Regions from separate parts of the Homo sapiens genome. Here region 2 is linked to region 1. A link means that fine-mapping ties the variant in region 1 to the plasma level of a protein whose gene starts in the linked region. Region 1 holds a variant in brackets. A gene starts in the other region. All regions are shown on their reverse strands. Region 1 overlaps LINC02967 (long intergenic non-protein coding RNA 2967). Region 2 holds the start of TMEM106A (transmembrane protein 106A).

The links. PIP is the posterior inclusion probability: the model's chance that the variant is causal. Protein levels are from antibody-based Olink assays in UK Biobank. Linkage for the fine-mapping came from a reference panel and not from the study's own genotypes, which makes the PIPs less certain.
Region 2: it holds the start of TMEM106A, and the variant in region 1 is fine-mapped to the plasma level of the TMEM106A protein (UK Biobank, PIP 0.96).

Annotation. Positions count from the first base shown.
Region 1 is chr20:24,930,728-24,933,637 of GRCh38, reverse strand. It overlaps LINC02967 (long intergenic non-protein coding RNA 2967), which reads right to left. Exons shown (of 3, transcript XR_001754563.2): 2 at 2,864-2,910; 3 at 653-2,291. Among named protein-coding and RNA genes, the nearest start is that of LINC02967, 14 kb to the right of the region's middle. The variant A/G (reference allele first, on the strand shown) is at 1,641.
Region 2 is chr17:43,210,735-43,213,644 of GRCh38, reverse strand. It overlaps TMEM106A (transmembrane protein 106A), which reads right to left and starts at 1,770. Exons shown (of 9, transcript NM_145041.4): 1 at 1,723-1,770; 2 at 1,251-1,418; 3 at 393-624. The coding sequence starts at 603. It overlaps NBR1 (NBR1 autophagy cargo receptor), which reads right to left. Exons shown (of 21, transcript NM_005899.5): 21 at 1,957-2,910.

The DNA of each region.
Region 1 (2,910 bases):
GTGCTGACATCAGCATGGACCTCAGCATGCAGTCCTCACCACACCCAGCTGCAGGGCTGCAGGGACAGCAGGGTGTGGCCATCAGAGCCCCCACTGGGAGGGAGGTCGTGGTTGACCCAGAGTGCTGGGACTGGGCTCCCAGGAGAGGCTGGGAGGGCCGGGCTCCTGCAGGGAGGCATTTGTGCCATGTGGGTGTGGGTTGATGGAATCATGCAGTGCTCATGGTGGGGCTGTCCTGTCCCAGTGGCCCTGCCGTGCCACCCTGTGAGAAGGGCAGGGACCTGAGTTGACTTGTGGCCTCCAAAACTACAGCCTCCACCAAGGGCACCAGGGGGCCACAGGGTAACATAATATCATTAATTACAATGCTAGAAATAATAATGATGAGAGGAAGGTGTTTATAGTACTACGAGGCACCAGGCACCTCCTTAACACTGTATGACTTTCTTCCCTTTTCTCTTTAACAAAATTTATTTTAATTGACAAATACATATTGAACACATATGGTGTATAGCATGAAGTTTTGCAAGTATGTCTGTCTGCACTGTGGAATGGCTAAATCAAGCCAATGAACATCTACACTACCATACATCCTTATTGATGAAGAGAATGTAGCAGGATGAGCTGCAGACAAAACTCTTGAGACACTGGATTAAAGAAGGAAGAGGTTTTTATTTGGCCGGTAGCATTGGCAGACTCATGTCTTAAGAGCCAAGCTCCCCCAAAAAGAAATTCCTAGCCCTTTTAAGGGCTTACAACTCTAAGGGGTCCACGTGAAAGGGTCATGATAGATCAAGTAAGCATGAGGAATGTGACTGGAGGCTACATATATCAGCTAACAGAACAAAAAGTTTTACAGTGCTTTCTCATACAATGTCTGGAATTTACAGATAGTACCAGTAGTTTTTATCGGTAATAAGAAAAAGGATGGCTTAATAGTGCCAATAACACAACTGTCTGCCCATTCATTAGGTAACTGAATGTAGGCTCTCTGCCCACATATCCAGTATAGTCCAGCGAGAGCCATCCAGTCCTGATGAGATCCTGGACAAGCCCCCATTATATCAGGAGCTGGATCAGTGGGCACCAACTCTCAGGCTTCCCAAGGCCATCGGTCTCTGATAGTGGTTCCCCCGCATATATAACAAGAAGTAACATTAAGGGAATGAGCTACATTTTCTGCTAATTGGAGAAACAAATTTTTTATCTTTTTCAGAAGTTCTGGTGCTGGCAGATTTAACTCCTCATAAAAGGTTTGAAACACTGGTTTGGGAGAGTGCTTGTGGACCTCCCCTTGAACTAAAATGGCAACTTGGGGGTTTAACCCTGTCCCTTTGATCCCCAGGGTTACACATTCTCCCTTTTTCCAATGGGGATCTAGGGGATTGGTAATTATTAGTTCTAGTGGGTTACAGTGACTGGCAGCACAGGAGGGGTTGGCTTCCCCTTTCTGAAGATGAACCAAGTCCTTTTTGTTCTTTTTCCAAGTAGCCTAAATAACACATGGCCAAAAGGCACAATTTTCACAAACCCCTGACTCATGACAAACATATTTATTTTCTACTCTGTAGCTCCTTTCCCAGTTAAGAGAACCACATCCTGTTCCTAGCTTGTTACTATTAATGGCTGCACAAGCGTCA[A/G]ATCTTAAAGTTACTTGTTTGGGGATTCCTTTTTCTTCTGTTCTAGTTATTATTTCACTTGTATCACCTAGGAAAAGGCCAGTTCTTAATCTTATTTCAAAACTGGTGGTTGTAGGGGGCTCAGATGGGTTATAACACACATCAGGTCAGTCATTTCCTGGGCTACATACCTTGTACTGAGTGGCATTATACAAACAAGTCTCTTTTAACGTTCCCATACATTGATAATAACTATAGAACAGAAAGATTGTTTTCATTTGCTGTCCTACCTCACTGACCTGATGAATACACTGGGAATAGTCCCCAGTTTGAGTAAGAACAGTTGAAGCCCTTACTGTAAGTCCAAAATTTAAGAAAAATGAAGCCCACAATGAGCTTCCTCATGCTTCGGCTGTGCGTGGACCAGTCAGCTTCTGGGTGTGACTGGAGCAGGGCTTGTCATCTTCTTCAGGGTCACTCTGCAGGGGTTGTCCAGACTTGGTCTTGCCTCCCAGGATTCAGGCGCTGCAGGTTTTACACGGTTGTGATGGATCCAGGCTAGGATTCTCTCTACGTTCACAGCAGTGGGAGTGATCAGGACGACAGTCTGGGGTCCTTTCCACCATGGGCACAAAGAGGCTACGTTCCAGTCCTTGATCCACACTCGAACACCTGGGGAGAAAAGGTGAACTGGGGAGAATAAGCTAACAGGGTCTCTCATTTACCCAGGCTGAGATTGTTTGTGTAATTTTTCCTAAAGCCTGTAGCTGTCGCTGTAACTCAATTTCACCTAACTCTCAGGAAGTGCCTGGAAGTCCCTGCAATATGGGAAGGGTCCCATGATATAATATTTCCTAAGGGGAATATCCTGTTCTTTTAGAAGGGGTACATCTAATTTTAAATAATACTATAGAGAGCATGTATCCATTTTAATCCTGTTTCCTGACATACTTTCCCTAAACTATTTTTGATAGTCTGATTCATCTGCTCTGCCTTTCTGGAACTCTGAGGCCGGTAGGCGGCATGCAGTTTCCAAATGATCCCCAATACCTTTGCTATCTTCTGTACCAAGTCAGCCACAAACGTTAGCCCATTATCTGAGCTGATCCGTAAGGGCAGTCCAAATCTAGGAATAAGATCTCGAAGAAGCACACAGGTTACTTCACGAGCTTTCTCAGTTAGTGTTGGATAAGCCTCCACCCACCCACAGTAGGTACACAAAAGAACTAGTAAATACTTGTTACCTCCACACTTTGGCATCTCTGTGAAGTCCACCTGGAGATCTTCAAAG
Region 2 (2,910 bases), not on the chromosome of region 1:
CATCTCTAGAATGGAAGTGAGATTTCCACTAATAGGTATGAAGAATCTCTGAAAGTCACCAGCAAATCAGAGATGCCCAGCATCTTTGGAAAGTTCATTTGTAACTTCCTGAACTGAATGAATCCTAGGACACACAGTGTTGCTCAGAAGCACAGTGGCTAGAATCCTTCTTTCCCACAAGGGGCTGGAGAATACAACCAGGGAAGGAGGGCAGGTTTTTGCAGGGAACCCAAGGATAGTTAAGTATCTCCCTGGCCAGCCTGAGACTGGGAGGTCAAGAGCTGGGAGCAGATCTAACCCCATCCAAGGAGACTCAGAGGGGCTGCCCCAGGCCAACAGGCTAAGAACTTTCCCTGGATTCCAGGCTATTTCCAGAGCCTTGGGCCACTCACCTTGGGGAATCTTGCCACTGCCCTGGCAGGTGGGACAAGTCACGAAGCTGGCATCAGCAGTTCCTTCACAAGGCACACAGGAACAAAAAGACTTGCTGCTACCGGTGCTGGAGTAGTTGACAGCCTTGCTGCCAATGGCTGGTTTGGAGGACAGGATTGACTTGTTCTCATCCTCCCGCCAAGAGCCCAGCTGGGAAAACGTCTTACCCATTCTTCAGGGGCGGGGGTTTCACTAATGAGAAAAGACCAAAGTTCAGTGCTAAGCTTGTTAGCACTGACGCCAGATGTAATTTTGGTTTGAAGTTCTCAAGACTGGCAAGGAGCTTCACCACAGTTTAAGCAAGCTCAAGCCTAAGGAAGATAGGATGTGAAAAACTGGGTGGTCACATGGGACTCTCAGAAGTCTCAATGCATTTCGACTCCTTTCATTATTTTAAAAGAGACCAATCTGCCTACAAAAGGGAAAACAAAAGAAAAGCAGAAGTTACTTCACTTTAAGGAACTTCCATAAGTGATTGTCAGAGCATTTAATTTTTCTCTGGAAAAGTTGCTGAGCTGTCATTCAGTTTAAGGGAAGGAAGTTGGATAGGGCAGAAAAGAGATTCTTTGAATCAAGGAGAGAGGAGGCCAGACTGGTCACAGGTGTGGTTAAGACCCCTATCTAAAGAAGCCCTGGGAGAAAGCAGACACCTCACTGCTTTCTGAGGCGGGGTAAGAAAGCCTGAGGAGGGTCATAGTGATACCAGGGTCTGTCTTTCACTAGGAAAACTCAAGGCTAAATCTGGACTCTGTGTGACAGAACGAGGCCGGCAAGTGAGCCACACAGATCTTTCTGGGCTAAAATATAGGGATGCTCACCTTGTTCAGGTCTGGGATCCCAGGCTCCTCAGCCGCACGAGGGCGAGACTTCTGGAGTGCGTCTTTGGGGAGAAGGGCCTCTAAGGGCAGAGTGGGCTGGGCTGGGCTGAGCTGAGCTGGGCGGTGGTGGGGAGAAGCACCGCCTGGGGCCGGCAACCGGCCGGAGTCCTAGGGGAACGAATGTGCCGCACTGGAGAGTGGGGATAGTAAGGACGCTGACCTCCCCGAAGGGCCAAGCCGATTCCTGGGCTACATGGGGGCTCTGCCATGGGCCGACCGGGTGGAAGCGGACGGAGAAGGTGTGACTTCATTAAGGGAGGATTTCAAGTCCCACCACACACCCCTAGAGGCCGTTAGTCAAGCTTGGTACCCGTGCGGGGGGCGCCTGTGTGTTGGGCGAGGAGGCGGCAACAGGAGGTGTCTTGACCTCCGAAAGGTAAAGTAGGTATAAAGGGTCTAGGGAGGGCCTTACCCGCGGACGACTGCAGCGACAGAAACGGAAGAGAGTGGAATCGAAAATGCGGGAGCGAACACTCCCCTCAAGCTTTGACTCAGTGCCCAGGGAAGTCCCGCCCCAGCCCCTAAGGGCCCACCCCCCCGTCCCCCGGTCCGCCCCTTCGCCACGCAGCAGCCTGAGACGCTGCCAGCTCTTCAAACGTTACCCGAGGGCCCGGACGCTGCTTCCGCAAGGACTAGCCAGTCCGGGTAGGAATTTCCAAGAACATTTATTTCACCATTCTTTAGGTGGTTATGTACAAGTACATACATAACCAGGAGAGCAACCCGGGCCCTCCTGGCCCTCGATTATAAAACTCCGATGGTCAAGACAGGTCCCACCCATCAACCCAATTACACCCTGCCGCTCCACCTTCTACCCGGAAGCCCCGATTAAAACGTTTTAAATAATGAACGGCCTGGCTGGCTTGCAGTTTGAATCCTGGTTTATTTAAGTAGCATTCAGGAGTTATACTGTAAATAAACATCATTATGGCTAATGACTAATTAAAATCACCATTCATTACAAATACCAACCAGGTTAGATAATACTATTAACTATCTTTTCCCCTTCGGTCTGGGGTTCATATTCTTCCTTTTCTGGAAGTCATTTTCATGGATAAAATATTTAGCATTTTTTGTTACCTCTTCCTTCACCAACTGTACTCAACACACTTCTGTAAACAGAGTGAGAACCTGGGTTCATGGACAAGCTCTTTTCCACTTATCTTCGGGTTAAACCAAAACTTTTTCAGCAACTTTGCCCCTGTCCAAGTTTTGCAGAACACCAGCTGCCTCTTCCTGTTCTAGGCATTCTAGGGCTAGATACCTGTGAACGGACTTCAAGCATTAAAGAAGTCATCAGCATTTCCTATACCTCACACACACTCATTTGCCCACCCTGAACTTCACTGACATTAATTTAGGAGCCTGCCTTTTGCCTTTCACATGTTTCTATTTCCCCCACTGTACTGTAAAATAAGATCTGCCCTGACATTAAGAAAAAAGGCAACTGTTAAATTTACTTTTCCCTTTAAATAACGGGATTTTTTCCTTTTCTATAAGATTAGCAAAATATTTCACAATACCTATATTTTTTCCCTTAAATAAAAATGTATGCAAAATTACTATAATAGACATTGCTCAATAGGTGCTGGTAGGTTTA